Homo sapiens: one gene and its partners. The protein of the gene in region 1 purifies or fractionates together with the protein of each later gene. This does not show direct contact. Each region holds a gene or a part of one and is shown in the gene's direction. Other genes may lie near its edges.

Region 1 (7,527 bases):
ATTTTTTTGTATCTTTAGTAGAGACAGGGATTTCACCATGTTGGCCAGGCTGGTCTTGAACTCCTGACCTTATGATCCACCTGCCTCAGCCTCCCAAAGTGCTGAGATTACCAGCGTGTGCCACTGCGCCTGGCCGAGTTTAGCATTCTTAATATTCATCATGTCGTCTCCAACATTGATCTAATCTTAGTATGTTCTAGACACTGTGCTACTAAGCAGCTTTTCAGAAATTATCTTTTTTTTTTTTTTTTTTTTTGGGACGGAGTTTCGCTCTTGTTGCCCAGGCTGGAGTGCAATGGCGCGATCTCGGCTCACCACAACCTCTGCCTTACGGGTTCAAGCGATTCTCCTGCCTCCGCCTCCCAAGTAGCTGGGATTACAGGCATGTGCCACCATACCTGGCTAATTTTGTATTTTTAGTAGAGACGGGGTTTCTCCATGTTAATCAGGCTGGTCTCTAACTCCCGACCTCAGGTGATCCGCCCGCCTCGGCCTCCCAAAGTGCTGGGATTACAGGCATGAGCCACTGCGCCCAGTCTCAGAAATTATCTTATTTTACTCTTCACCATACCCTTGTGAGACTTATTATCCTCATTTTACAGAAGAGGAAATGGAATCAGAAAGCTAAGTAACTTATCCAGGGTCACATAGCTAGGAGCTCTGGAGCCAGGATTTGAACTTGGGTTTATTAACTCCAGAGCCCATGTAACTACTGTGCTGTATTTTCCCAAACATTATATAAACATGTGATTTGGCCAGGTGTGGTGGCTCATGCCTGTAATCCCAGCACTTTGGGAGGCCGAGGTGGGTGGATCACCTGAGGTCAGGAGTTCGAGAGCAGACTGGCCAATATGGCAAAACCCTGTCTCTACTATAAATACAAAAACTAGCCGGGTGTGGTGGTGGGTGCTTGTAGTCCCAGCTACTCGGGAGGCTGAGGCAGGAGAATTGCTTGAACCTGGGAGGCGGAGGTTGCAGTGATCCGAGATCATGCCACTGCACTCTTGCCTGGGTGACAGAGTGAGACTCTGTCTCAAAAAAAAAAAAAAGGTGCGATTCTTCATTAAAAAAAATGAACCAGAAATATAGTTTTGTGGCGTTCCTCCTAGTTGCAGTGGTAATACTTTAAAGTTTTGAACAGTTTTTCTTTTGTGAAAGCATCAATTTCATTCAATCCATCAGTCCATGTGCTGGGTGTCATGGGGCTAGAAACAAAACTAGTTCTTATTTTGAGGGAAGGGCAGAATTTGAGCCTTGGGTTCCTTGCTTTGTATATATAGCAATTAACACAACCTGGATTTTCTTTTCTTTCTTTCTTTTTTTTTTTTTTTGAGACATAGCCTCAACCTATTGCCCAGGCTGGAGTGTAGTTGCACGATCTCGGCTCGCTGCAACCTCCATCTCCTGGGTTCAAGTGATTCTCCTCCATCAGCCTCCCGAGTAGCTGGGATTATAGGTGTGTGGCAACACGCCCGGCTAATTTTTGTATTTTTAGTAGAGACAGGGTTTCACCATGTTGCCAGGCTAGTCTGGAACTCCTGACCTCGGGTGATCCACCCGCCTCAGCCTCCCAAAGTGCTGAGATTACAGGTGCGAGCCACCTCGCCTGGCCTTTTTTTCTCTTTTCTTTTCTTTTTGAGACAGTCTCACTCTGTTGCCGAGGCTGGAGTGCAGTGGCACATGATCTTGGCTCACTGTAACCTCCACTTCCTGGTTTCAAGCGATTCTCCTGCCTCAGCCTCCTGAGTAGCTGGGATTACAGGTGTGTGCCACCATGCCCGGCTATTTTTTTGTATTTTTAGTAGAGATGGGATTTCACCATTTTGGTCAGGCTGGTCTTGAACTCCTGACCTCAAGTGATCTACCTGCCTCGACCTCCCAAAGTGCTGGGATTACAGGCGTGAGCCATCACACTTGGCTTCTTTTTCTTTTTTTGTTTTTTGTTTTTTGTTTTTTTGAGACAGGGTCTTGCTCTGTCAGGGTGGAGTGCAGTGGCATGAACATGGCTTGCTGTAGTCTCAATCTCCTGGGCTCAAGTGATCCCAGCCTGGATTTTCTAAGGCTGTCTGAGGTTCAATGAAAAATTTCACTGATACGTTTGCTAAATTTTATGTTTCTTTCCATGTATTTGCTCAATAAACATGATTTGTTAAACATCAAACTAAATAAGACTGGGCATGGTGGCTCACACCTGTAGTCCCAGCACTTTGGGAAGCCTAGGTGGGTAGATCACTTGAGTTCAGGAGTTCGAGACCAGTCTGGCCAACGTGGCAAAACCCATCTCTACTCAAATACAAAAATTAGCCAGATGTGGTGGCACACACCTGTAATCCCAGCTACTTGAGTGTCTGAGGCTGGAGAATTGCTTGAACTCGGGAGGCAGAGGTTGCAGTGAGTGGAGACCATGCCACTACACTCCATCCTAGGCAACAGAGTGAGACTCTGTTTCAAACAAAAAACATAAAAAACATCAAACTAAATGCAATTTTATTTGGACACATTTATCAAACTTTTATTTTCTTTTTTAGAGAAAGGGTCTCATTCTGTCGCACAGCCTGGAGTTCAGTGGCACAATCATAGCTCACTTTAACCTTGAACTCCTGGGCCCAGGTGATCCTCCTGCCTCAGCCTCCAAAAGTGATGGGATTATGGGTGTAGGCCACTGTGCCTAGCCCTTATCAAACTTTTAGTATTAATTCATCAATTGAAAAAAATCTATTAGAGTATATGATTTGATTTTTTATTTGGATATAATAGTTTGAGGACTTGCTTATATTTTTCAAAAATATTTATTGGACAGCCATTATGTGCCAGAAACTGTGGGGAGCAAAATAAATATAGTCTCTGCCCACTTGTGGCAGGAAGCCTAGCTGGGAACCCTCACATGAAATAAATAGTCACACAAATGACTATGTAATTGTGAGTTGTGATATGAACTGTGAAAGAATAGTACAGAGTTCTTTGTGAAAGTTTACTGAGGGAATTGATTTATACAATGGGGGTCATGGAAGATCTTTGAGCCAGTGACATTTAAGCTTCGACCTGAAAGCCAAAAAAGTGGAAAAATGGACGAGCCAGAAAAAGCAACATGTGCAAAAGCCCTAAGACAGTTCAGAAAGTGAAGCATGTGCAGTACAGTTTAGTAAAAAGGAGGCAGAGTGCAGGGAGAGCCCCAGGTGGCAGGATATCAGAAGGATCAATACAGAAATTCCCGAGAAAAGTCCAGCATAGGAAAACAATATGGAAAAACAAAAAACAACAATGCTCAAAATTTACAATGTTCTCACATATGTTGCCTCAGTTAATCCCTAGGAGAAGTGTGTGCCGCAGGGAGGACAAGGATAATTATGGTTATTCCTACCATTGAGGATTAAAGTTTAGTTTGGGACAAAGTCATGCAGCTTTTGGTTCCATGGTTCATATCACAAGGCAAACTCTGTGGGTTCTCTGGGAAGTTGGAAGGGAGTGAATGTATTGAAGCAGAAATGACCGACTCCAGCCTGGCCAACAGGGTGAAACCCCATCTCTACAAAAAGTACAAAAATTTGCCCTGTGTGTTGGTATGCTGCAATATTGTACTGTGCTCCAGCATGGGAGACAGAGGGAGACCTTATCTCAAAAAAAAAAAAAAAAGAAAGAAATAAAGGAAGAAAGAAATGACCTATGGCTAGGGCTATGCTGAGTATCTGAAGAAAGAAGGCTTTGAACTATACGTTTAAAAGCAAGTACTTCTAGGTTGCCACTCCCTGCCTGCACTTGAGGGATTTATCTCTGGGTCAAGACAGAGAACGAGTCTTGCATTAAATTACATTAAATTAAATGAATTAATTTATGGCTGGGTGCAGTGCCTCATGCCTGTAATCCCAGCACTTTGGGAGGCTGACATAGGAGGATTGCTTGAGCTCAGGGGTTCGAGACCAGCCTGGGCAACATGGTGAAACCCTGTCTCAACAGAAAAAAAAAATTAAAAAAATTGTAAAAAAAAATTATTTATTTTCAACTTTTATTTTAAATTTAGGGGGTACATGAGTTGGTTTGTTATCTGGGTATATTGTGTGATGCTGAGATATAGGGTACGGAGTCTTGCATTTTAGAAAGTGATGAGTCACTTTCAAAGTTGACAGTTCTATAATTCCCTGATTTACATATCAGGACAAAATTTGAGCATAGGCTGGTGATTTCTGACTTGAACCTAAAGGTCTGTGGAATCGGAAGGGTTCATCAAAATGAGAAACTACAACTCCCGGCAGGCCTCGGGGCTGGGTCTTCTTCCCCGCCCCTCCCTCTTTTTCCGCCAGGGCTGGGAACGACCAATGACGGTTAGTCATTTGAATAGACCAATAATATATTAAACGGTTCAGGTTGAGGAGGGGCGGTCGAGTCATCCAATCGCACGGAAGAGGTGAAAACATATTAGCCAATCCAAATATGTGGGGGCGGGACGTAAGGTGGGGCGGTGAAAGAAGTTTGCTGACGAAGATGGCGACTGAGGCACAGAGTGAAGGGGAGGTGCCAGCCCGCGAATCCGGCCGGAGGTGAGCTGAGTTTGGTCCAGTTTCCTGGGAAACGCGGCCTTGGGCTGGTAGTCCTGCCGCCTTTGCCTTGGGTCACGGAGGCGCACGGTTCGGGCTTTGTTTCTTTCTCCCACGGCGTTTCTCATCGTCGCGCCTGCGGGGGCTGAGGCGCGGGGGTCGGGCCTGGGCGCTGGACTCCAGCCAAACCCCCCGCTCGGTCCTGCCGGTGCCCGAGGGGGCTCCTCCCGCTGCGCTGGCTGCAGACGTCCAGCTGGGGGTGGCAGCGCTGATCGCTTTGGCGCCGAGACACCTCTTGATGGCGAGGAAACGGAAGTCCAGGGCTGGTTAGCGAATTCCTCACTGTTGCACACAGCGCTTCACATCTTCTCCGAGGCACTTTGTGCGTTCAGGTCCGAGCAAGGATTTGAGTGTCAATTAGAAACAGTGTTGAGTCCTTGGGCCAGTTTTTAAACCTCTCTCGACTTCAGTTTCTTCATCTGCAAAGGGACGTGAGGATGCCTATTTCCAAGTGTCAAGATTGAATAAGACAATCCATTTAAAGCTAGCACTGAGTTTAGCCGATAATGACAACTCTACGCAATAGATTTTCTTCTTCCTAGTAGAACAGCTAAGGAGCAGATGGGAGAGGGATCTGTAGTCCAGGACATCATGACTTTATTTCCACAGGATGTTCTTTCCTAAACAGCCACACCGAGATTTAGCGTTTTCAGGAGAGAATTTCGAGGTGGTGTTGCCTTAGCCTTGAGACCTAAGTTGTCTTAATTGATTACAATTTTGTTTTTGGTGTAATTCAATAGATTGAGTTTATTTACGTTGCCTCAGTGTAACTCAGTAAAATACTTCGGTTTGGCGTCTTTTGGTTCCATTTGTACCGAATAAGAGATTCCAAGAATCTTGGGAAACTAATAACTTTGTGACTCGGCTTCTTCCTGAGCCCAGATGAGCGTGGTTGAGTGTGTTATTTAAAATATCATACGGGGCCGGGCATGGTGGCTTACGCCTGTAATCCCAGCACTTTGGGAAGCCGAGGGGAGCGGATCACCTGAGATCAGGAGTTCGAGACCAGCCTGGCGAACATGATGAAAGCCCGTCTCTACTAAAAATACAATAATTAGCCGGGTGTGGTGGCGGGCGCCTGTAGTCCCAGCTACTCAGGAGGTTGAGGCGGAGGTTGCAGTGAGCCCAGATGCGCCATTGCATTCCACCCTGGGTGACAGAGCAAGACTATGTCTCAAATAAATAAATAAAATAAAATATGATATGGAAGAGTTTTCCACTCTTTTTTGTTTTGTTTTGTTTTTGTTTTGCAGTTGCAAGATTTCATAGAGTGAAATAGAGTGAAAACACAGCTCCCACACAAAGGGAGGGGACCCAAAGTGGGTGGCCGTTGCTGGCTCTAATGCCTGGGTTTATATCCTGATCCTTGTCCCTCCCGCTGTGCTCTCAGGCAAGAGATGATTGGCTATTTCTTTACCTCCTGTTTTTGCCTAATTAGCATTTTAGTGAGCTCTCTGATTGGTTGGGTGTGAGCTAAGTTGCAAGCCCCGTGTTTAAAGGTGGATGCGGTCACATTCCCAGCTAGGCTCAGGGATTCTTAGTTGGCCTAGGAAATCCAGCTAGTCCTGTCTCTCAGTCCCCCTTCTCAACAGGAAAACCCAAGTGCTGTTGGGGAGATTGGCCGATGACCGCCCTAACTGCTTCCTGCTGAATTGGGGCGTAGTAGGGGTTGTGCAGTTGAGATTTCCTCGGGAGGGTTGCCTTCGATGTCATTAACATCGGAGCATGGGCTAGCAGGCTGTTCCAGGGGTCCGCGGTGGATCTTAGTCATAGACTGCATCTGGGGCTCCATTTGAAGAATGATTTGTAGTTTTACAGTTTCAATTCTGGAAGAGACAAACGCTTTGGATGCCCCTTCGTGGTCACCAAAATGTTACCGGGGGTCCTTGCTCACAGAGCTCCCAAGATGGTGGCCAGCCGCTTCTAAGATGATGGCGGGCCGCTTCCAGGATGGTGGCAAGCCTAGTGTTCTCTGACCTGGGGTTCTCAGCCTCACCGATTCCAAGGAATGGAATCTTGGGCCATGGGGTGAGTGTTACAGCTCTATTAGAAGCTGTGGGTCACGGAAGAGAACCGTGGAACCCAGTGACTGGTGTTCAACTTGATTAGGACGAACCCAGGCACTTAGCCATGCAGGAACAATGGCAAGCCTTTAGCACGATCGGGAGTGGCAATGGGAGTCTCACTGGATCAGGAGCACAGCAGACACCCTGCCAGATCCGGAGGGATGGGAGTCAGCAGCGGGATGGGAGTCAGCGGCGGGTCTGCGACAGCGGCAAACAGCAGTGGTAGAGGGCGAGCAAAAGCTCAGCTCCAGCCATAACAAACATAGACCAGAAGAGTGCAGTTGCAAGATTTAATAGAGTGAAATAGAGTGAAAACAGAGTTCCCATACAAAGGGAGGGGACCCAAAGGGGGTTGCCCGAGTTTTCCACTCTTGAAGCTGCCTATAAATGGTTGATCATTTTTTTTTTTTGCCCGGGAACTGTAGAGGTGATTGATACATTTGATTAGATCATCCTTCATCCAGTTCTTTAAAAATTTCTAAATTTTGGTGAAAATCTGAGGACAAATAAAATACTATTCCATAGCAAGAGTAGTTTGAATTTATTTTCTTTTCTTTTCTTTTTCTTTTCTTTCTTTCTTTCTTTTTTTTTTTTTTAACACAGGGCTCCTTCTGTTGCCCAGGCTGGAGTGCAGTGATACGATCACAGGTCCCTGCAGCCTCAACCTCCTGGGCTCAACTGGTCCTCCCTCCTCAGCCTCCTGAGTAGTTGGGACTACAGGCACGTGCCACTATGCCCAGCTAGTGTTTTTGTTGTTGTTGTTGTTTTGTTTTTTTGTAGAAACCGGGGTCTTGCCATGTTGCCCAGGGTGGTCTTGAGTTCCTGGCATAAGTGATCCTCCTGCCTTGGGCTCCCAAAGTGCTGGGATT
Region 2 (7,756 bases), on another chromosome or scaffold:
TGCCATGTACTGTTGCCTCTGCCCAGAACCCCTGTCTCTCCTTCACTATAGGTGGCAGAATCCACTCATTCTGGCATTGGCATTGGCTCATATGGGGAATCACATTGATTTGCTCATCTGTTTACATGCTTACAGTATTCACTACCGTACCACTCCAGAGACTGTGTCTTATTCACTTGTGAATTACAGCCTCTAACACAATGGCTCGCAGAGTAACCCTCAATATATAAAACACGGAACTGAATTGAAACTGCACTCTCCTCTACTATATTTTTTAGTTTTTAGAAAATGCTTTTAATGGGTCTTATCTTCTAGAATGATGAAATGTCTTTAAAGCTGCAGTGAAACCAGGGCAATAAGTTTAGAGCCATAATTTCTTGAAAGAGAGTGATGAAAAATCATCGCTTAATTCTGAGCCACCCTACTGAGATCACAGCTTGGACACTGAGCTTAGTTTTATGCACCTTATGTTCTAGGTAACTGGAAGATGATTGCAAAAGATGGCACTAAGAAGGATTAAGTGTGATTATTTATGAGGCACAGTTAAAAGCAGACAGCATGCATATGTTCACAAGCTATAGGGAATAGACAGATCTCTAAATATCTGATGAACAAATCTACCCAAGGAATACATTTAACACAGAACAACAAAGGGAGAAATAAGATGACAGAAAAAAAAAACATAGGTGAAAAATTTAGAAAATTTTCAGCACATCATAAGATGGCTCTTACTGGCAACCAGAATTCTCCAATGGTAGCCAAAAAGCTTAATGATCACAGGTTAAGAAATGTGTGAAGCAGACTAGAGCATTTGGGTACGACTGAGTTTCCCAAACTTTCTATACTTTGTATTACAAAAATAATGCATTGTTTCTCCTTTTTTCTAATATAATATTTTTGTATTAGATATTATTTTTTCAAATAAATTTGTAATAAATTACAAATAAATAAAGATTCTTGTCTGAAGGTCTGAATTATGACCTGTAACATATGGCTAAGATGAATTATGCAGAGGGTTGAACTCTTTGACCTCTACGGACTTTTTAGTTTTGAAATTCTGTTTCCATGGTAAAGATTTCCTTGTAGGCCATGTGTGCTTGAAGAGGATGCTGTTGGAAGTGTTTGACTAAAGCCAGAGAACATTATGTGACCTCCAGTTTTTCTACACACAAGGATGGCCCCAAGCTTCGTGATAATGGGGGGTTATGGTGTAGTTACCAGTGCCTCTTACCTTTATGATTTAGTTGAATGATACAAATGGTACAAATGTCAGGCTCTTCTAGTACTTACCCTGTTTACTTTTTGTAGCCATAATATAGTCATTTGTTAACCACATATTTATTGAGTGCTGACTAATGAATAACACAAAAATAAAGTTTGTTTTTTTTTTTTTTTTGAGATGGAGTCTCGCTCTGTCACTTGGGCTGGAGTGCAGTGGCACAATCTTGGCTCACTGCAGCCTCTGCCTCCCAGGCTCAAGTGATTCCTTGCCTCAGCCTCCCAAGTAGCTGGGACTACAGGTGTGAGCCACCATGCCTGGCTAATTTTTGTATTTTTGGTAGAGATGGGTTTTCACCATGTTGGCCAGGCTGGTTTCAAACTCCTGACCTCGTGATCTGCCCACCTCGGCCTCCCAAAGTGCTGGGATTACAGGCATGAGCCACCGTGCCTGGCCTGAAAACAAAGTTCTTACCTTCATGGAGTTTACCTTTTGTTTGAAGGAGACAGATGATAAACAAAAGGACAAATAAATGTGGGTATAATTTCAAGTAAAGATATTTGCTATGAAGAAGTACTATAATGGCACAATCCACAGAAGTCTTTCACAAAATTGTCTTCTGGGTCTAAAAGTCACCCAGATCTTGATGCTACCTTCTTAAAATATCCACACCCTTTACTCATGTTTCAAGACCATAAAATGAAAAACACAATGTTTTTAACACGTTTCTTTAAATGTCCTTTTCCCCTTTTCTTAATCTTCTTTCTCCTTGCACTACCATGCCCCAAAGCTCCCAAAGCACCCTCCTTAAATGCCCAAAGAGTTCCTATTCCCCAGTGTAAATGAGGCTTCTGCTATTGTTTGGTTTGTATGTCTTAGTGAGGATTTAGAAAGTACAATCTATCTTAATTGTTGATGAGTGATAGAAGGTGGTAGGCTGCTTGGGCTTTTTGTATTTATCTACTTAGTTTCTGACTTATTCTTATTCTGTTAGTTTCAGTGACATGAGCTTGTGGTAAACCAAAGCCACCTGTAGCAGATATTATTGGTGCCCCGCCAGTATGCTATATTCCCTTACTATTTCAGCGTATACCAATGTGACTCTTAATTCTTCTATCTCTGGCTTTCTGTGGCCACTGAGGCAACTCTGTCTACTCTTGGAGCATTGCAGACAAGCCAGGGTCTTAATAATCCCTGAAAGCTGCCCCCAATCATTGACTGACGGTAGTTGGTGTTTAAACAACCCAGTTATCTTGTCCTCTTGGTGGAATCACTCAGTCTAAGGTACATGTTCCATATTGTTTCCCAGAGATTTCTAGGAGGATTAAGTTCTGGGTGCCTCTAGCGGTAATGTGCTAGATAAGGCATCTTTTTGGTCTTCTCTTCCCTATTTCACTTTCTTAGTCTCTTACTGGTGTTTCCTGCGATAACCTCCTAAATAAAATACTTGCTCTTGAATACCTGTCTCCAGATCTGCTTCTGGGAGAACCCATACTAAGGTGGTTATTAATTCAGTCAAGTTGCAGATCAGACAGTAACCTCCCACTGATTGTCTTGGCACTTGAAGGTCCTGAATCCAATGCAAGTTCTATGTCTTCATGCTCTTTGTGAATGTATCTGTTGCTCAAGGTCGTGGGTGACCTTGAGCCCAGCAGTCAGCATTATCCACAGCTGAAGTAATACCTATGTGCTCATATTAGGCTATCTGACAACAGTGCAATAATCATTAGACACCACTGTTTAGACCCTGAGTATGTTCATGACATTTGCCTTTTGACTGCTAAGTAGAAGATGTAATGATTATAGGCTGATGCTTTCTCAGGAGGAGGAAAGTTATTGAGCTTTACAGTTTCAAATGCTTCTGATTTTCTTCCACGTTTAGTCTGGCTGCTGACACATGTGTTGAAATCTCTCATGTCGATCAGCTTGAGAATAGCTGGGACTGCTGAGCTAAGTCTGTGCTCATAAAAGCAACAAAGAATTGTATTACAGGAAATGACCCCAAATTGACAGAAGATTAGGCTAGGAAGCCTGAACAGGTGTTTTAATCTCTATGCACAAAATCAGTCTGTACATATATTGCTCACATTCCTGCTGTTTTAACTATATTTTTTTTTTCAATTTCACTTTGTTATTCACAATTTGATAATATTTTATGTGGCCATGGTGTCTGTGTGATGAACTATAATCCAATGTGACATTCTCTGAGAGTCAAGCTTCCAAGGACATCAGATTTTCACACCAGGACACTTTGTAGGACACCTTGCTACTCTCCATGGGATTCAAATATTAGAAATAATGAGAGATCTAAGACTTGATGTAATTGCCTGCATGTAATGAATCAGGCCAAATAAAAAAGTGAGAGACAGAGAAAGGAAATGGTGCTAAGGAAAATGGGGACCTATCTTAGTGTTTGTCTGAGAGAAAACTGCTCTTTGTTTTTCCCGATGTAATGGCAAGAGTCTGCAGCCAGGAATCTAGTCCTTGCTTAGGAGCTGCATGACCTTGTGAAAATTACGTAGGTGTTCTGCAATTTGTAATTGCATTTATTGTAAAATTAATTTTACTTTTCATACGTCACTAGACAGAGCATTTTGAGGTTAGGAATTGGGTCTGAATCAATGATTTCTCCAGCACCCACATGGCATTTGGCACAGAATACATCAATAATGATTTTGGATTAAACAGGGGAACAAGCACAAGGAACCATGGTGGTCAGAAACGGGTTGATCTGCACCAGAGAAAGGGAGACTAGGGGAGAAAGGTCACTCTAGATTTCGTTCAATTATTGAAAATACGGTGTATTTACTATGTGCTGGGCACTTTTCTAGGTGCTAGAAAGACTACAGTGACCAAAACAAAAATCCACATCTGCAGGGATCTTGCATTCTAGTGAGAAAGTAAGATGGTAAAAAAGATAAATACGTAAATTTTATACAATGCTTCGTAACGACAAATGCTAAGGAGAAAAACAGCACAGAAAAGACAGAAAGGAAAAGAGAAGGGGCGCATGTGGTGCAATTTTGTTAGGATGCCAGGGAGGGCTGAGCGTAGTCGTAAATGACCACATTATTTGATGGATCAAGCCAGGGACTGCAAGTCTGTGTTTCTGAGAGACACATAAAGAAAAGAAGGCTTAAGGAATCCAGAAAGATCCAGAGTGGGGAAATGAAACGAAAAGAAATCCAGCCAGTGGGAAGTCGTGAAGGGATAGTTAAACGCGTTTTGGGAGGAAAGAAAAAAGCAAAAGTGCGGTACAGCCTTTCGTTACACGTGAAAAGAATCATGTTTCTTTTTCTAGTTAGAAAAAGCCAAAGATTGTGCGATTTATGCCCCAAACCCCCTTGTAAGGGGATTCTCACCTCAACTTGTCTTCTGTGGTCAGTGTTTCCCGCCCCTGAATCAGGGTTACTGTCACTATGGCTTTCAATTGGCCCGGCGTAGGCGCATGCTCTGCGCGTATTGGCCTCCGCTCCTGTCCCCAGACAAGCGGCCATCTTGGGTCCCGCCCCTACCGTGGGGTCTTCTGGGAATTGCAGTCCCCGCTCTGCTCTGTCCGGTCACAGGACTTTTTGCCCTCTGTTCCCGGGTCCCTCAGGCGGCCACCCAGTGGGCACACTCCCAGGCGGCGCTCCGGCCCCGCGCTCCCTCCCTCTGCCTTTCATTCCCAGCTGTCAACATCCTGGAAGGTAGGGGCGGGGAGGCAAGCCCAAGTGGAATACTGTTTCTGGGGCGCGGGTCTGGGTTTCCACGCGCGTCAGGTCATCACCCCGGAGCCCAGTGGGGCCGGCGCCGCTCACGGGGCGGTGGGCTTCTGTCCCGAGTACTCTTCCGCCCCACGAGGGTCTCAGGGTGGGGACTCGGGCCCCCCAATTCCCAAGCACCGACCCTAGCCCTAACCCGTTCCTCCTCCACCGTGTTTATACATTGGGGAAACTGAGGCACGGGGCCACGCCAGCGGGTCCGGGGACGCCACAGCTCTTGGCTCTGGGGGTGTAGTCGGCACCCGCCGTTTTGGGATGGTTCGTCAGTTTCATAGACAAGTAGCGAAAATCCGTCCCAACAGGTCTGTGTTAAACACGCAGCTCTGGATTCCCCTAAGGGGTTGCTGAACACGTGCCCAGGACAGGAGCAAACCGGAGTATAGAGAAGGCAGCATTTTGGGAGATAATTTTACATTACTACTTCAAAAACAGGCAAAGAGGCATCGAATTTATTGTTGTGGGAGAACTCATCGGTACTTGGTCGGACTTTCTTACACTTATTTTATGGTTGTTGTTTTTATTTTTAGCGTCAAAGGGGGGAATTTTAAAGGTATATCCAAGTTGGTGGTGGTGGGGGGTAAGGAGGCAGGTTAGTGGAACTTGAGATGCATCTGCAGATTTCTCTGTAGGCTCACATTCTGCCCTCGCTGTGTTACCTTGGAACAGCCACTCACAGCGCTTATCTGGGAAACAAGGAGCTCAATGCTCCCAGGTCAAGTGGCCAAAGGATGTTGCCTGAAGCCGAAATCTAAATTGAGGTTATGCTTGTGAAAGTTTACCACTTGCAGATTTACTGCTATTATTATTCTGGTCTCTCAGAAATGTGCTGGGACCAATAGAAAATACTCACAGTGGTTGTTTTAGTAAGGTTCTGACCTGGGCCGGGCCCAGACTACCAAGGGTGGTCCCTACTCGCACCTGATGTTAAGCCGGATCTACCTGAACTCTCCCTCCTTGGCTTCAGCCTGCGGCCTGAGGCCTTGGCCGCGGAGGCTTCTGGGAGTTGCAGTCCCGCCTCTTGTTTCTCGTCGGGCAGGTACTCCACCTCGTGGCGTGCCATTTTGCACGGCGAGATGTCTCCTGGGAGACGAAGTCTCGCTTCTAGCCGTTCTGTAGAGCAGCCGCTTGACTCGGAACTACAACTCCCATGTGGACCTGCGTTCATGGCTGCCGGCCTGTGTCCACCTGCTGCAACCTGGACTAGAAATATTTAGTAAAGAAAGAAGTCTAGGGTTTGTGTGTGTGTGTGTGTGTGTGTGTGTGTGTGTGTGTGTGTGTGTGTGTGTGTGTGTTGTTATTGATTGCATATGCTGTTCTAAGTGTTAGATATGGGATTGTTGTATACGGTGTTCCAAGTATTAACGTACATGCTTCCAAAACCACTAACACTTGACCATTTAGAACCTGTTCACATGATCTCTTTTTAATACTACATTTCCCATTTGTATATGAGAAAAAACTTGAGAAGATAGCCCATGATTACACAGCTAGCAATATAATATATATTCAATAAAATATATGTGTTATAATTTAATCCTCTTAAAAGCTATATGAGAGTGAGAACCATTTTTATATCAACTTTACAGATTAGAAAACTAAGGCTAGGAAAGTTAAGTAACTTGTTCAAGTTAAAACACTGGTGAATAAAAGGACTGAGACTGTAAGCCCTTCTGCTTAACAGTCTCTGCTTAGAGAAAGACCTTACCTTACAGAGCTGAGGAGGAGTCCAACCTTTCTGGCTACAGAATTTGGAATCTTTTAATTATACCATGCTGCCTCTGTACTTAGATACTAAACATTTGAGCTGCAAAAACCTTTGAGATCATTTAATTCTAATGCAAAGATCTTGGAACACTTCTTGGCCTATAATAAAGATTCCATATATATATGTATATAGTTTTAGAATACCTTTATTTTAGAGATTAGGAAACTGGCCCAGGTGGTAAAGCAGTTTGCCCAAGGTCACACAGTTGGTTTGTGTCAGAGATTAGACTAGAACCAAGCATCTTATTTTCAAGTCCAGGGTTATTTTCATTCCACCAGCAGTCAGCTAGCAGGAACACCAGATGTGTAGCTCTTTAGATAATGGTTTCTCCTCTAATTTGCTCTTTCAAGGCCACAGACCAGGACCAATTGTTATAAATTATCTTATTTATTATTGGTAAGGTTGTAATACTTCATGAATTCAACAAATGTTTTTTGAGCTTCTTTATATGGTCATCTCTCTTAAGGTGCAAGGACCACATAGATGATAAGGACTTAATGCATTCAGACTGGAAGGACCTTATAAATAATCTAATCTAACTCTTATTTTATAAATGAGGAGAGTGTGTTACGAAGTAGTCTGCAATCTTCATCTCATGCCCTCATGTCAAAAGTATCCCGTTTCTGCAAGAAGGCAGGTTTCTGGAGTCCTCACAGTAGTGTGGATAACCTTTTTAGGCTTATGCTTTTCTATTTGGTATCCTTGTCTTGGCCTTTTTCCTGCAGCCTTTGATAGAATGCTTTAGGAAATGTTTTTGTGTCCCCATCTTTATTTGTGTGTTTATGCAACTTCAACATGCTCTGTTTCTATTTTGGAAGTTAGTCTGGTTTTGGCTCCCATTACTCTTTTCTCTTTTGTTCTTTCAGACACTTGAGAACAAATTCTGACACTATGTTTGCATTCACATGTTAAAATCTGACCCTCTAATATGAACTCTCAGAAATCTATCAAGTTGTGACTTTCATTTTGGAAGACATATTGGCCCTTTCAATTATGTATTCACAGATA
Region 3 (7,697 bases), on another chromosome or scaffold:
CTGCTAAAAAGACAAAAATTAGCCGGGTGTGGTGGTGCATGTCTGTAGTCTCAGCTACTTGGGAGGCTGAGGCAGGAGGATCGCTTGAGCCCGGGAGGTGGAGGTTGCAGTGAGTAGAGATCATGCCATTGCCCCAAGCCTGGGCAACAGAGCAAGACTCTGTCTTAAAAAAGAAATAAATTCCTCTTGTGGTTTAACTATAAAGTGTAACCCCCTTTTTGGACTTCATTTCCTCTTTTTTGCCCATCCCACCTTCACTGGAGCTAGAAGAAGATGGACCCATAAAGTAGGTCTGTATTTTTATAGCAACACTGGACACATTCTTCCTTGGATTTGAACTACCATTTTACTTTTTTTAAAGTAAAAATAGCTATAGCAATCAAGGCACTCAATACCTAGGAATAATTTTAATAAGAAGTATGTAAATTCTACATAATGAAAACTAAAATTCTACTGATGGGGTACCAATGACTTGAATGTATAGGAAGATAGGAAGATTCTTATCATACATTCTCCTTTAGATAATCTAAAAATATGTGATTCCAGCCAAAATAACAGTAACAGAATAGAAGAGTAAATTATGGTTCAATATAGCCTCACAATATTATACCACACAGTAGTCAGAATGAAGGGACTAAAACTATACACAATATGGCTGAATCTCACAGAAATAATTTGAACAAAGGAAGCCAGACACAAAAGAGTACATACTCTGTGATTCTCTTTATATAAAAAGCAAGAACAGGCAAAATTAGTTTATGGTATCAGGAGTCAGAAGAGTGGTTGTCCTTGAGAAGAGCAGTGACTGAGAGGGAACACACAAGTGGCTTCTGGGGCACTAGCAATGTTCTGTTTCTTGATCTGCTGCTGGTTACACAAATGTATTCCATTTGTGAAAATTCATCAAGATATATACTTGTCATTTGTGCATTTTTCTGCATGTATATTATAAATTAATTTTTTAAATTGTGGTAAAAAAAAAAACCATAATGTATACAATTTAAAAAATTTTTAGGCCGGGCGCAGTGGCTCATGCCTGTAATCCCAGCACTTTGGGAGGCCGAGGCGGGCGGATCACCAGGTCAGGAGACCGAGACCATCCTGGCTAACACGGTGAAACCCCGTCTCTACTAAAAATACAAAAAATTAGCCAGGTGTGGTGGTGGGCACCTGTAGTCCCAGCTATTCGGGAGGCTGAGGCAGGAGAATCGCTTGAACCAGGGAGTTGGAGGTTCCAGTGAGCCGAGATCGTGCCACTGCACTCCAGCCTGGGTGACAGAGTGAGACTCCGTCTAAAAAAAAAAAAAAAAAAATTAATGATCAATGGAACAAAATGAAAAAAATCCAGAAATAGACCCAAATACATATGGCAATTTGGTATTATAAAGGTAGCATTCAAAAACAATGGAGAAAACATGGGTTATTCAATAAGAAGGATTTGAATAAAACAAAACAAAATTGGATCTCTATCTCACACCTTTACACCAAAATAAATTCCAGATGAATCAAATATTTACATATACAAAGACACTATCAAAGTACTTTTTAAAAAAACATAGGAGCTTTAAGAATAATCTTAAATAGTGGGAGACTTTACTAAAAATTATATGAAACACAGAAGTTGGCCAGGCACAGTGGCTCACGCCTGTAATACCAATACTTTGGGAGGCTAAGGCGGGTGGATCACTTGAGGCCAGGAGTTTGAGACCAGTCTGGCCAACATGGCAAAACTACTCCGAGTCTACTAAAAAATACAAAAATTACCCAGGTATGGTGGTACATGCCTGTAATCCCAACTACTCAGGAGGCTGAGGCACGAGAATCTCTTCAACCTGGGAAGCAGAGGTTACAGTGGGCCAAGATCATGCCACTGCACTCCAGCCTGGGCGACAGAATGAGACTCTGCCTCAAAAAAAGAAAGAAAGAAACCCAGAAATTATCAAAGAAAATATTGATAAATTCAATTACATAAAAATTTTTAACATTTGCAAAGAATAACCATAAACAGGCTGAGGGCAATGGCTCAGGCCTGTAATCCTAGCACTTTGGGAGGCTGAGGCAGGCTGATCACCTGAGGTCAGGAGTTGGAGACCAGCCTCAAAATATGCAATATACATAGAACAAACTTGGAAAAGGGAAAATACTTGTTATATGTATAAACAATATACATAGAACAAACTGGGAAAAGGGACATACTTTTTTTTTTTTTTTTTGGAGATGGGGTCTCGCTCTGTTGCCCAGGCTGGAGTGCAGTGGCAATCTCGGCTCACTGCAACCACCGCTTCCCCAGTTCAAGTGATTCTCCTGCCTCAGTCTCCCAAGTAGCTGGGATTACAAGCGCTTGCCACCATAACCGGCTAATTTTTGTATTTTTAATAAAGACGGGGTTTCAGCATGTTGGCCAGGCTGGTCTTGAACTCCTGACCTCAGGTGATTAGCCTGCCTCAGCCTCCCAAAGTGCTGGGATTACAGGCGTGACCCACCACACCTGGCCGGGGAAAATACTTTTAACTTATATACAAACAGCAAGTATTAAGAAATGACCCTATAACCAATAAAAATATGAACAGAATATAAAAACAGAGAATTTACAAAAAAATTGCCATTTAAATATATTAAAAGATGCTCAACTTTACTTATAAGAGCAATGAAATTTTATCTTGCAATGAGATAGCATTTACACTATCAGATTGTCAAAAATCAGGAAGTTTAACAGCACCAGTGTGCTATCAAACAGGTTCTTTTCATACATTGCTGACAGGAGACAAAATTGGTAAAATTTCCAGGGAAGGCAATTTGGTAATACTAACTAAAATCATTTTCAAAAATTGCTGGTGGGATTAAAATTATAAAAATCTTTGTGGGAGGAAGGGAATTTACAAAATTTTATCTATCCAAATGAAAAAACAATGCACACATTTCTTTAACTTGGCACTTGCATTTCTAAGTATTTATCATACACATATGCAAGAGGGAAATGAAGTATCCTTGCATATCAATCAAATGTTAAAGGACTGGTTAAATATATCTTCATATATCCCTCAGGCATACTATGAAACTATCACTATGAGGCAGATACGTATATGCTGCTACGGAAACATTTCCAGACTGTATCAAAGAAAGTTGCAAAATAGTATGTATGTTATCAACTGGGTTAAAAAAATATATGTGTGTGTATATATATATACACTTTATATATTACACATATACACACGTTAACTATAGAATATCTTGTGAAATTTTTCACAAGAAACTGGTAACCCTAGTTGCCTTGAAGGAAGGAAAATTTATTCACTATAATAACCTTGTTTCTTCTGAATTTTGTAGAATGTAAATGTATTACTTATTCAAAACGCATACACATTTTTATATTAATAGAAAGCAAAACCTGAGGCCCAAAGGCATCTGCCTAATTGACAAAAGATACAACCTTGCGTTCTTTCAGCAAATATTTATTGCTCATCACCTGCCAGGTATTGTGATGGAAGCTAGTGCGGAAGATCCCCCAATGACCAGGATCGCCCGACCCCTGTTCCCAGGGTGAGCCCCTAGCGCGGAGCGGGGACAGGGTGGACCGAGTAGGGCGCAGTGCTGGTCTCGCGAGGCTCCCTGCCCCACGGAGGCAGTAGCAGGACCCAACCGTTCCTAACCGTCCAGGGACCAGGACAGCGTCTGGAATAAAATCTTCCAAAGCAAACTTCCGCCTGCGGAGACCCGCTCCCTTCCTCGCCCCCACAGAAACGCCCCCCGCCACCACCCCCTCCCCCGGCGTAGGCCTTCACGCTGTCGCCTCGACCCGTTTCCTCGAATCCCCAGGGAAGGGTGGGCCCCTGGCGCCCCTATGGCCCGCCGCCCCCTTACCACCGCGGTCGGAGCCCGGGTCTCACTCTCCTGCCGCTGTTTCGGGCCACACCGTGTGTCCGTGCCTCCGCAAAGGAATAGAAGAGTGGGTCCTCGCTCTCTGCGGCGCACCGCTTGTCCCTTGACTTCCTGTCCATCTACAAAGCCTATTTCATGTTTTCCAGAAAGAAAACGTTTTCCGTGTCTCTTGAGTCCTCATCGCCATATGCGGGGCGGGACCGATCTATGCAAAAGATCGCAAGAGAAAACTGATGGAGCATCGCCCATCATGAGGCTGCTCTCCCGATGGTCACTGAGTTGTGTTGTGGCACTGTCTTTGTACAAAGACACCAATTTTTGCGAACGGTGCCACTCATGATTCAACGCTCTCATGCCTCGGTCCCAGCTGCTGGAGCGCAGATTTTCCTCCAAGGGTTAGAAGATAGAAAACTCCTCGGTAATTGGCCTAGAGGTGGTCTGCGAGGACGCCGGGAAGCTTGTAATTGGCTGTTTAATTCTCAGCAGGTGCGGTCTCAGTTAACAACATCTGCTTTTCCTGGATCTTATTGGCTGACAGGGTGGGCCTGCTTTGGATTCCATCCGGGTAATTGGGCAGCGGCTAGCAGCAGCCACGTCGCTCAGGGGCAGCCCGCGGAAGGATTGGTTGTGACGGGAGAAGGCGATTGGTCGGACTGCGAGCAGGGTGTTGATTGGTGCTGTCGGGCTGCGGGGGCGGGGAAGTGGCGGCTGAAGCGCCGCCGGCGGGGCTCACTGTGGTGGTGTGAGTGGGAGGCGGCGGCGCTGGTGGCTGCAGCTGGGGTGAGGCGCGAGGCGGCGCACTCGACGGCTGACTGGAGCAGCGGTAAAGGCGAGGATGGAGACCGAAGGTTTGGGGAGTGGGAAAGACAGGGTCATGGGCAGCCCTGGCCACTAGGAGACGGAAATGCGGGAGCGAGGGAAGGGAGGGGTCTGGCGTGCCCCGGGGCGAGGGAAGGATGTGGGGCGCAGCGGGGGAGTCAGAGCCCTGGGCTGTGAGACGCCGCTCGGGGGCAACTTGACCCACTGGGAACTCGTAACTGTATCTGAGGAAGATGCTCCAGTCACCCGCTTACGCCACAACGGACCCGGTGCGGGAGCGTTTGTGTTTGCCCTGAGTCAGTTCAGACTCTTCCACTGGGCCTTTTTGAGACTGAGAGCTGCCATCCGTATATCACTTTGCCTTTAACTTTCCCCAGCTTTTTCTTTAGTTATCGCTAATAGGATGGCTGTTTACAGTCGTCAGAATAATACATTGGGGTTTTTGTTTTTCCAGTATCCCTCATTCCTTAATCCAGGTATCATCGTGGGGGTTGGCTGGAGACCCCTATTTCAAAGACTGACTTTTAGACCCTTTCCTTGTTTTGAGAGAAAGGGGTTGACACTTTTTTTTTTCTCGTGAATTTAAAATAAACGTACCAAGGATGAGAACATTGAGCTGCTTCGATTCAAGCATGTCACCATGTTGTAGGTTCTTTGTAGGTTCTGGTTATTAGGAGATACTGGAATGAGTTATCTATGCTTTCATGGAGCTAACAATGTGATTTGACTTCTCATCACATCCTATTTGACTCCTGTCATTTTAAATGATAAAGTAAGCCTTAGCGATGCATATCAGATAGTTTTTGGCAATTGTTCAATACAAATGTCAGGAAATTTCAAAGTTAGCTTTCACTGAAAACCATTATCTAACCACATTCCTCACTGAACAATGATCCTCATCTTCTCTTCTTAGCTTCCCCTAGAAACTGTGGTCTTAAGTTCTAGTATTTTCCTCCTTCCCATTCAATTTTTAAGTAATAAAATCAAACACAAGCTAGCAGTCAGTACTATGCAGTTATCCCCGTTTACATTATATTATTTTCCATTTCTCTTTAAGAGAAACTTATAGCTGAAAGGATATGAAAATTGTGAACAAAACCATAGTGACAGATCAAGTAGAGTCTCATTTTTTGAGACATCAGCTGATAACTCAATTAGCACAAATTCATTTGTAATGTTTGAAGAGGAGTTAGTGAAATTTACCTTTTGCTTCAAATAGAAGTCGGCCAAAACCGCACCTATAATCTCAGCTACGCCGGACGACTGCGGGAGTTCAAGGCTGCAGTGAGCTATTATCATTCACTGCATTCCATCCTGGGTGACAGACCAAGGCTCTGTCTCTAAATAAACAACAACAAACTCTCCAATTCATCTGTTCTCCATCTCCATCATTGACACCTGGACTAGGCCCTGATTGGTCTCCTGCAGCCACGGTTGCTGCCTTCAATTCATTCTCCTCACCACGGACACAGATGTTAATCAAGAATGACAAGCATGGCATGTGTTATCAAGGGATATTGGGGATTCTGTGGAAACCCATAGCAATGTAATTCAACCCAGTGTAGGGGGTCGAGATTGAGGGGCCTTGGCTGCAGAGACCCCTCTGCACTTGATCTTGATAGTGTCAGAACTGGAAAACAAAAGTGCTGCTAGTCCTTTGGGCCTCTGTAAAGAGGTGTGATTATGACTGGCCATCAAAACAGACTTATTTCTATTGCACACTGTATTGTGTAGAAATGACTAATGAGCTGTGTGATCTTAGATCAATCCTTTTCTATCCCTTAGCCGCAGTTTCCCAAATTGCAACGTTATTAATGGAATCAAATAAGTTCTGTAGTCCCTTCTAGTTATAAAATCTTGTGATTTCTATGCCCCATAAGCATCAATTATGGCCAGTTTTTAAAAGCAGACAGCATGAAAATACAGATCCAGTTTATTCTTGTTCACAGGGCTAGATTTCAGTTTCCCAAAGCCCTTAAGACCTAAAGACTCCTGCCTGTCAAGATCTTCCTTGCCAGACAGGAAACTCCATGAAGGCAGCTGCCAAATCTATCTTGACTGTTGTGTCCCGAGGGTCAAGCACACATCAGAATTCGATATTTATTGGCTTGAATAAATGTCCATTTAGTGCAGTTCATTCATGTAGTATAGGTTTGCGGAAGAAAAGTGAGTTGTATTTTAATGAGATGATTTTCAACTATACACCATCTAAGAAATAAACCTTAAGGTTCTAGCTACTTTCAACTGTCGCATTGACCAAGAATTTATACAGTTGTCCCTCCCTTCGTTATTTGCAGGGGATTGGTTCCAGGAACCCTGCAGAACCCAAATCCATAGATGCTCATGTCCCTTGTATAAGATGCATATTATTTGTATATAACCTACACACATCTTGCCCTATACTTTTTTTTTTTAAACCCCTTGAGACAAATTCTCGCTCTGTTGCCCAGGGTGGAGTGCAGTGGTGTCATCAGTTTACTGCAGCTTCCACCTCCTGGGCTCAAGCCATCTCCCACCTCGGCCTCCTGAGTAGCTGGAACTACAGGTGTGCAACACCACGCCTAGCTAATTTTTTTTTTTTTTTTTTTTTTTTTTTTTTTGTAGAAACAGAGTCTCACTATGTTGCCCAGGCTAGTCTTGAATACTTGGTCTCAAGCAGTCCTCCTACCTTAGCCTCTCAAAGTGCTGGGATTAACAGGCATGAGCCACTGTGCCCAGCCTGTTTTGGTGTTTATGTTTCCTAGACTATGAATATTTCCAAGTAGAAATTCTTCTTCCTCCTTCTGTCCCCAACGTGCTCAGCACACAAGAAAGAGCTAGCACTATTTAACCAAGATGCATTAATAATGGAAACAAGCTTTGCACTTTAGTGGTCATATAAGAAAATACCTAAGCCAGGCGCAGTGGCTCACGCCTGTAATCCCAGCACTTTGGGAGGCCGAGGTGGGCGGATCATGAGGTCAGCAGTTCGAGACCATCCTGGCCAATATGGTGAAACC

What was found.
Region 2: the proteins of ARHGAP19 (region 1) and FHIT purify together in Homo sapiens (affinity purification with mass spectrometry; 2 studies listed by BioGRID and IntAct, with this or other methods). This does not show direct contact.
Region 3: the proteins of ARHGAP19 (region 1) and TDRKH purify together in Homo sapiens (affinity purification with mass spectrometry; 2 studies listed by BioGRID and IntAct, with this or other methods). This does not show direct contact.

The regions. Positions count from the first base shown.
Region 1 is NC_000010.11:97,289,580-97,297,106, reverse strand, and holds the start of ARHGAP19 (rho GTPase-activating protein 19), read left to right. Parts: upstream 1-4,469; 5' UTR 4,470-4,479; coding exon 4,480-4,535; intron 4,536-7,527. UniProt on the Homo sapiens protein: GTPase activator for the Rho-type GTPases by converting them to an inactive GDP-bound state.
Region 2 is NC_000003.12:61,248,453-61,256,208, reverse strand, and holds the start of FHIT (bis(5'-adenosyl)-triphosphatase), read left to right. Parts: upstream 1-4,756; 5' UTR 4,757-4,908; intron 4,909-7,756. UniProt on the Homo sapiens protein: Possesses dinucleoside triphosphate hydrolase activity. Cleaves P(1)-P(3)-bis(5'-adenosyl) triphosphate (Ap3A) to yield AMP and ADP. Can also hydrolyze P(1)-P(4)-bis(5'-adenosyl) tetraphosphate (Ap4A), but has extremely low activity with ATP.
Region 3 is NC_000001.11:151,787,410-151,795,106, reverse strand, and holds the start of TDRKH (tudor and KH domain-containing protein), read left to right. Parts: upstream 1-4,606; 5' UTR 4,607-4,727; intron 4,728-7,697. UniProt on the Homo sapiens protein: Participates in the primary piRNA biogenesis pathway and is required during spermatogenesis to repress transposable elements and prevent their mobilization, which is essential for the germline integrity.